2 separate regions of the Homo sapiens genome follow, and region 1 is linked to region 2. Evidence: fine-mapped expression QTL. A gene starts in region 2. The other region holds a variant in brackets. All regions are shown on one strand. Distances are from middle to middle. Region 1 overlaps SUCLG2 (succinate-CoA ligase GDP-forming subunit beta). Region 2 holds the start of SUCLG2 (succinate-CoA ligase GDP-forming subunit beta).

Evidence for each region. PIP is the estimated chance that this variant, and not a neighbour inherited with it, causes the effect.
Region 1: its variant is fine-mapped to the expression of SUCLG2 in whole blood (TOPMed, PIP 0.97). The same link has a PIP of 0.9 or more in esophagus mucosa.

What each region holds. Positions count from the first base shown.
Region 1 is chr3:67,372,929-67,377,322 of GRCh38, reverse strand. SUCLG2 (succinate-CoA ligase GDP-forming subunit beta) reads left to right here. Exons shown (of 11, transcript NM_003848.4): 11 at 1,464-2,604. The coding sequence ends at 1,579. Among named protein-coding and RNA genes, the nearest start is that of MIR4272, 150 kb to the right of the region's middle. The variant C/A (reference allele first, on the strand shown) is at 1,784.
Region 2 is chr3:67,652,244-67,656,637 of GRCh38, reverse strand. SUCLG2 (succinate-CoA ligase GDP-forming subunit beta) reads left to right here and starts at 2,026. Exons shown (of 11, transcript NM_003848.4): 1 at 2,026-2,135. The coding sequence starts at 2,052. SUCLG2-DT (SUCLG2 divergent transcript) reads right to left here and starts at 1,941. Exons shown (of 7, transcript NR_109992.1): 1 at 1,536-1,941. RefSeq lists an enhancer at 1,720-2,219 and a silencer at 1,735-2,414.

The DNA.
Region 1 (4,394 bases), 280 kb after region 2:
CAATCTATACCATCAGCTATACTGTCCTCATTTTTCAAGTAGGTAAGCAGACTAGCATATCTTTAGAACATGCAGCGTTTATAATTACAGAGAACAGTTCAAGTCCCATCTCTGACACTTACCGCCTCTGTGACCATGGAAAAGTTATTTAACTTCTCTGTGCCTCAGTTGCCTTATCTGTAAAATAGGAACAATAGGACTACTCATAGTTTTTGTAAAGATTTCATATGCTGTGTATAAGTTACTTAGCACTGTGCCTGGCATACATAAGCACTTAATGATATTAGTTCTTGGGAAGATTACGAGGATGATAGTGCTCTGTATGGAAACAAAAGTTAAGGCTCAAAGAAGTTAAACGATTTACCCAAAACTACATAACAAGTACATGGCAGAGCCAGCATGGAGATTTTAGGTAGCAGCTTCCCACATTTTATGCTTTCACCTTCCAGAGAGGACTTTCACCAGCTTCCTCTGTAAAAACAGGAGTAGGTGAGCCTTAAGGTGAAGACACAGTGCCAAGCGGCCATCTTCACTGCTGCTTGGGTAGACCCAGGGTCCCAGGGGAATCAGTGCTGCATCATCTTTTCAATCCACCCATTTCTATTTAATCCAGCATTTGCCTCTTTATATGAAATGTGCTGACCCAGTGCCTCTTTTTATCTGCACTCTTTGTGGTAAGGCAAGTTCTCCAAGGCCTATATTTCAAGGTCTTTGTTTATAAATAGGCTCTGTCTTGCCAACTAGATAAAAGCACAGGAAATGATGTAGGATGAGATATTTCATTAGACACTTAAATTCTATTACATTTCTCCTACAGGAGTTGTTCACTCTAAAATGGCAGAAAAGCAGTTCTCATGTTAAATAGTCCCCAAGCACACCTTTGAATGAAGTGACTTGGCCAGAAGATACTCCAGATCCACCAGGAACAGTCAAGAGATTGCCATCAGAGGCTGCTTTGCCCGTTTTGAAGGGCTCAGCCCATTTCATTTTATAGAGTGAGGAGAAGGCAGAAATGGACATGCTGGATGCGCCAGAGTCTCCAAAGCAGTGGATTTGTGGACATAGCTGGGCAGATTCTCGGAACTTCCTTTCTCAAATCAGGTCACAGCCCAAACCCCTGATGACGTCTGAGAGGGCTTTAAGACAAGTGACTTCTGGTGTGGGCCAAAACCGCATTAAATCCACATGGCTGTGATTATCAGCAGACAACTCAGCTTCCATCAGTAAAATATGTTCATTTCCCTCTTGCAAGCCCTTGCTTTCATCTTCTTTTCTAGCTGGACCACAGCTTGAGATAAATTTCATCACATAATCTTTTCTGTCAGTGACCTTGATGAGAACCTATATTTAATTCATTTCCTAGTGAAAAGCTGTAGACAGGTGAGTCTTGTGTGTCCTTGTGCAAACTTCATAAGGCGCCACCTCTAGTTTCATTCAGTGATTGTTCCCTGTCCCCCTTCTAGGAACCAACGTCCAAGAGGCCCAGAAGATACTCAACAACAGCGGACTCCCCATTACTTCAGCCATTGACCTGGAGGATGCAGCCAAGAAGGCTGTGGCCAGTGTGGCCAAGAAGTGATGTCTTTGTCCTGATCCAATGGAGAAAGAAAGCCATTTTTCCGTAAAAAGGGATGGTTCATCATTGTGAAAGAAATGGTTATCTCATTGGGGAAGAAAAGGGGAGGGGGAAGGCAAGAATCACTGAAAAATCTTAAATCTGTGTTTTCTGGAATAAGATATCTAGACAGCCTAAATCTGATTTTGGTCTTTATAAAAATAATAT[C/A]TTGTGTTCTCATACTTTTCTGTCACTGTAAGCCTGCCCAGTAGGCAGTGTTTTGCAGACTTTGGGGAGTGGTCTATGTGGCCAAATATTGTGTGTATAGACAGAATTTGAAATCAAGTCCTGCTTCATTTACAAGAATTTTGGTGGGCATCTAATCCTACATAATGAAAAAGAAAAACAGACCATTTAAAAACTCAGACAAGATTATATTTAATATATTAATTACTAAAAAGGCATAAGATTACACTGAACATATTAGCTACTAAAAAGGCACTGCTAAGACATTCAAGCAAATAGCTATTACACACTACTGCAGATTTTACAGGTTTCTAATTCTAACATATGTTTGAAAAATCCGTGAGTATTCCAAAATATATTTAATAATGGAATATCTGCATTAATATACCATCCATGTGTTTTTACCATTTGCCTTAATATTGAATATACTGTTTACCTCACACTAAAAAGAAAACCAGAAGCCTTATTTGTGATTTTGGGAGTGGAAGCTTCCATTTTTGTGTCAAAAATGAATCCTGATTCTTATGGAAATCTCTGTTATTAAGATATTTCAAGATGAGACAACACTGAAGATCAAATTGTGTTTAGTATCACTATCTTCTCTCCTCGTTTCTCTCTTACTCCTCATCCTCCCAGAATCTACCAGTTTATGGTAGAAAGATGGGAACCTTATTTGAATGTGTTTTTTTTTTCCATGATGTCCAATTTTGTTGTGGGAAAGGATTTGGATAAAATTTTTGTTTAAATTTTGGTAGATTTTTATCTATACAAATTTAAATAAAATTATGTTTTGTAAGCTGTAAGATCTGTGTGTATCTCTCATTTTACTCAATTTTATTCCTCAAACATTTTTTTTTTTTACAAAGACACTAGTCTTAGTGTCTTAGGTATGCCTCTAAAATTTGATAATTTGGGTCATTCCAGGATTATTCCAGTTCCACTCAACTTTATCAGATACCCATTTCTGTGTTAGGAGATTATTGAATCCATAAAAGTTATACACAAACCAGAACCCCAGGAATGTATCTCAGATGTCTGACAGGTTGAACTGTGATGTCAGTCTGCGTAACGCAAAGGGAGATACTCCAGTATAACTCATTCCATTAAGTGAGGCTCAATTGCCACCATTAATTTTCCTTTCAGTGTATAAATATGTAGTAGACCAAACTATTTTGTTTGTTTTTTTTACCAGCTTACTTTGTTCTCATAAATTTTATGTGTGGACAAAAGTATGAAAGTCATTATTGTTTAGAGCCATGTTTGCCATGGAGAAATAAACTATTGGATAGATCAGTCTTACATCCTTTCTTAATGCCCATGCAATGAATGAAGAATATTAACAATGTCTTCTTAGTTGTGTTTTGGTTTTTGATAGCTTAATCACTAGTTGGTGCAGTAAAAAAAATAACCTATATTATGTCAACTAGACAACATTTTTAAATTTTTGATCTCTGAAGAGGACTATGTTTGAATCACTTGTAAATATTGATGTTTCCAGTCAACCCAATTTGGAGGAGGGGATAAAGCAATTAAATCATTTTTGTGATTATTTCATAAAAGGGTTAATAACAAGGAAATAGCCTTTTATTTTCAAATAAGCTCAAAGCCATCAGAGCTTGTTCTTTTTGCATCCTTAGCGTAGCTTGTCTCTAATTGTTTTATTCTCAGGCAGGCCATTTTTACAGGTGGATAATGGCTGCTGGCCATTACATGTGAGGTTCTCAAATTTAGCATCCTCAGAAGAGAAAGAGAGAGGGAGCAGAGGGAAAGAGAAAATAAATGAGCAAATAAACGAAAGAAAGAGGGAGGAAGGAGAGAGGAAGGAAAGAAGCTTCTCTTGGTAATTCTAAGACACCTCCCAAAATTGAATATGACTCCAGTGATCAGTTTCAGGTCAGTAACCTATTCCTGAATCTGGCCCCGGTTCATTTACAATAATTTTTGTGGTCTTCTATACAATAAATATAGGCCATAAAAAACTCAGACAAGTTTACATTTAACATATTAACTACCTGATATGGTTTGGCTGTGTCCCCACCCAAAATCTCATCTTGAGTTGTAATCAGTGTTTTTGATTGTTTTGGCTTTGAGCTTATTTGAAAATAAAAGGCTATTTGCTTGTTATTAATCCTTTTATGAAATAATCACATAAATGATTTAATTGCTTTATCCCCTCCTCCAAGAATTAAATTACAATTCTTCTACATTTTATTTTCATGTCTCTTCCTCTCAGTTTTCTCTCTGAGGAAAAAAAAAATGTCATTAAGAATTATATTGTTTTTTAAGTGCAAAGCCTTGATAAAAATTAGAAGGAATATTATTTTTTCACATTACTAAAGTAAATATTTGAATGTTTGATTGTGATCATTTGTAGAATACACTATATGTTCAAAATTAAAATAAGCGAGAAAATATATATCATAGTGGGGAAGGAAACAATGTGGGGAAGTGAAAAGGATATGTTCTTTCATATTTTTCTAGATCTGGAGTTGGCAAACTAAGGCCCAAGGGCCTATTTTAGTAAATTAAGTTTTATTGTCACAGACACACCCATTTGTGTGCATGTTGTCTGTGGCTACTTTCATGCTACACA
Region 2 (4,394 bases):
TGGGACTCCCAAATCACTAAGGTAAAGGGAAAAGTTAAGGTGGGAACTGCTTAGGGCAAACCTGCCTCCCATTCTATTCAAAGTCATCCCTCTGCTCACAGAGATAGACGCACAGCTGATTGCTTCCTTTGGAAAGGCCAATCAGAAACCCAAAAGAATGCAACCCTTTGTGTCTTATCTACCCATAACCTAGAAGCCCCTCCTTGCTTCCAGTTGTCTCGCTTTTCTGGACCAAACCAATGTACATTTTACATATATTGATGTCTCATATCTCCCTAAAATGTATAAAACCAAGCTGTGTCCTCCACCACACCTTGGGCACATGTCAGGACCTCCTGAGGCTGTGTCACAGGCACGTGTCCTTAACTGTGGCCAAATAAACTTCTTAAATTGATTGAGACCTGTGTCAGGTATTTGGGGTTCACAGCTCCAAATGAATGTTGCTTTTATCACTCTGATTACTGGGCTTAAAATCCTCCAATAGCTTTGTGTCCGGAATTGGTTCCTTCCCGTGGGTTCTTAATCGTCTCGCTGACTTCCAGAATGAAACTGCAGACCCTCGCGGTAAAGATGGCGTGACCAGAATTTGTTCCTGCAGATGTTCAAATGTATCTGGGGTTTCTTCCTTCCGGTGGGTTCGTGGTCTCGCTGACTTCAGGAGTGAAGCCGCAGACTTCACAGTGAGTGTTACAGCTCTTAAAGGTGGCCCGTCCGGAGTTGTTTGTTCCTGCCTGTGGGTTCGTGGTCTCGCTGACTTCACGAATGAAGCTGCAGACCTTTGCAGTGAGTGTTACAGCCCTCGAAGGTGGGGCATACGGAGTTGTTCATTCCTCCCAGTGGGTTCGCAGTCTCCCTGACCTCAGGAGTGAAACTGCAAACCTTTGTGGTGAGTGTTATAGCTCATAAGGATAGTGCGGACCCAAACAGTGAACAGCAGCAAGAGCTACTGCAAAAAGCAAAAGCACAAAGCAACCACAACCTGGAAGGAGACCCCAACTAGGGGCCACTACTGGCGCCGGTGTCCAGCTTTTATTCCCTTATTTGGCCCCACCCTCATCCTGCTGATTGGTCCATTTTACAGAGTGCCAATTGGTCCATTTTACAGAGTGCTGATTGGTCCCTTTTTAAAGAGTGCTGATTGGTGCATTTACAAACGTTTAGCTAGACACAGAGCGCTGATTGGTGCGTTTTTACAGAGTGCCGATTGGTGTGTTTACAAACCTTTAGCCAGACACAGAGCACTGATTGGTGCATTTACAATCCTTTAGCTAACAGAAAAGTTCTCCAAGTCCCCACCTGATTAGCTAGACACAGAGGGCTGGCTGGTGTATTTACAAACCTTTAGCTAGACACAGAGCGCTGATTGGTGCATTTACAATCATTTAGCTAGACAGAGAAGTTCTCCAAGTCCCCAACCGACCCACCCGGCTTCATCTCTCAGCTTTACATTGATTTTAGGTTAAGGATAGAACAAAACAAAACACCCACAACTCCTTAAGGGATGGAGAGCCTCCAATGGCCTCTCCTTGACTCACCTGAAGCCCTGGGCTGCAGGAACCTCACCTGTCTCTATTCGTTAAAGTCTCAGCTCAAACACCACTGTCCCAGATAGGCCTCGTGACCGCAGGACTAGACCACGGTTCTCTGCGGAGGGCGTCAGCTCCGTGAGCCACCCTTCCAGCACCCACTGCCATGGCGAATATTTGCTTGTTTGGCCATCCAGGGACTGTTTGAGCCCCAAGACCGCAGGGCTCGGGGTCTGTCTTTGCTCAGGACGATAACCTGGGGACTGGACAGTAGGCCCTCAGGCCTTGGGACCGCTCAAAGTGAACCGGGGCCGGGTGGGGGACCCAGGGCTCTGCAGCCTTAAGAACGCCTGTGCCCCCGGGACGCAGGGGTCAGGCCCGGCCCGGCCCAGACCGCCTCTGCCTCCTCCTCCTTTTCCTCCCCGCGCCCGCTTCTCCTCTGACCCCTCCTCCCGCTGCTCCTCCTCCGCCTCCTTCCCCTGCCCGCGCCCGCCCTACTGCCCCGTGCCGAGTTTCCTGTTTAAGATGGCGTCCCCCGTAGCAGCGCAGGCCGGGAAGCTTCTGCGAGCCCTAGCGCTGCGGCCCCGCTTCCTGGCGGCCGGGTCCCAGGTGAGCGTGGGGGCAGGAGCTGCGGGCGCCAGCAGCGGCGCCGGCCTGCCCGGGCTTCCCTCGCCCCCTGCTACTCTTGGTCTCCGCCTGACCCCCTGCGCGGCCCCTCGGGCGCCCCACTTCGGGAGGTGACGCGGCGCCGGGTCCAGGCGCAGCAGGGAACCCCGCTCCAGTGTGGGGCAGGGGCGGCGCGGCGGCAGCCCCGGGTGCCTCGGGGTATGAGCGACCCAACGCACTAGAGTCTCCGCTGTCTGCCCGCGCAGACTCATGGCGAAGGCGCTGAAGCAGGCGCTGGACGCAAGTTTAAGAAAAGTTTCTTGGACCGGGTTTTGGAGCCCTGAGGTTTTATTGTCAGCTCTACTAATTCTGCTTTTCAAACTTCTGGCACTAACCCTGAGCACGTTTAGACCACGTGATAAACATGCCTGGAAACCCGTTTCAGCCCAACTAGGAACTCACCCCCTAGGGTGAACTTCCTGCAGGCTACCTGCTTTTGCAGACTTTTAATGTGCCTGAGTTGGTCAAATCCGTGGGTCAAGGAGAAAAATGGGAAACGATCTTTCTCCTCTTTCCAATGAAAAATCAGGGCTGTCACTAAAACGCATTAGACCATTGACCCTGTCCATGTCCTCCTTGTTGATGGAGAATGAAATCAAAGAGGGTCAGTGGTGGGCTGGATAGCGATTGGAACTTGGCCTCTAGCAGATTTTTACCTTCTGCAGATGGCAAGCGTTAAAATAGTCAGAAGGACTTCAGGAAAGTTTTGAGTTGGTGATGACTCTTGTAGAAATCACTCAACCACTGAACTGGTTAGTCTCCGTAGACTATCTCTCTTCCCTTTTAAAGAAAGCACAGTCTGGGATTCAGCCACAGCAGAGTTAATGACCTTGCCTATTTCCCCATTTTTAATTGATGAGAGGCAAATTATCACTCATACAATTTTAACCAGGATGTGCATAGTATAGTTTTTTAGAAAATTTAAAAAATAGTGATTAATGATTTTTTGAGTTCCTCTAAACTTTGGTTATGACATCTGTGAGCTATTTTTACCCCTCTCCTTTCATTTCCTGCCTCCCCATTTCTCTGTTATTGTTAATGTAAATTTAAAAGGTGCTAATACTTACTACTGTAATATTCTTAATAGGTGCTTGACAGTATAGTGAGGTAGCAAAAGGAATGGCAGTTTTGTCTAATTAAAACTCACTAATAACTGTTGTAATAGAGTAAGGAGAATAGCTCTAGGAGATGAAGTCCTATTCATTATTTAAGTGTTAGAAAAAACAAGAACTAGGGTGCTTACCATGAGTGTAGACTTGAATTGATGAGAAACATGGGGCCCAGGGCAGTGAAAACTCATGAATTGTACAGAGAAACTGAAAATGCAGAGTGTTTAGCTGAAATATGTGAAGCCTACTTCCCTAACCAAGAAATAAGAGGCTGAACGCAACACAGGAGAAAATCTGGTTGGGGAGAGATACTCTTGGTTTGTCAAGAAAACTGGGTAAAAAGATCTGTTAGCACGCCCCATCTGGTTACTGTGATTTACATATTTGTGGATGATGTGTTTTTCTGTAAATTCTTAGAAGGTAAAAGTAGGTTTTTTTAAAGATAGAAAGGTACACAGTGTCCAAGAACTGGAAATGGACATTAGCAATCATTTAGTCCAGCCAGCTCATTTCATGGGTAGAGAAATTGAGGCCTAAAGAAGTTCAATGACATATTCAACGATACAGTGAGAGTTTGTGGCATTCCAGAGTAAAGGCTTACCTTTACGTTTCCGTTACACCATGCTGTTTCCTGGTGAGTATATACTTCCTCATGAAAATATATTATATCAACATGCAAATTAATCTGCATGCCAGTAGTAACTATATAACATCCAAGTCATTAGCACCACTGACACATTTTTATTTTTTTCTTTATGACCATCTTAGAATTGTCCATAAAAATGGTGAGTATTGCTATTTTCAAATTCTTGGGTGCTTCCTATGATCTGTTTCATGTACACTGATTTGATATTACGTTTCCATAGTCCCTTGCCCGTGGCAGACATTGCAGTTAAACATGGCCCACTTCTCTCATCATACTTAAGAATCCTCACCAAGTGTCTCAGAAATCTGTTGCCACTCTTGGCCCAGACCTATTTTATACCACCAGGCCTTGTGAAAAACTGTTGTCTGTACAGAAATAAAAGACCCAGTTTCTGCTTAGAGAAATAACTTTAACTGGTCTCTCAAAGATACCCATAGAATGACATTT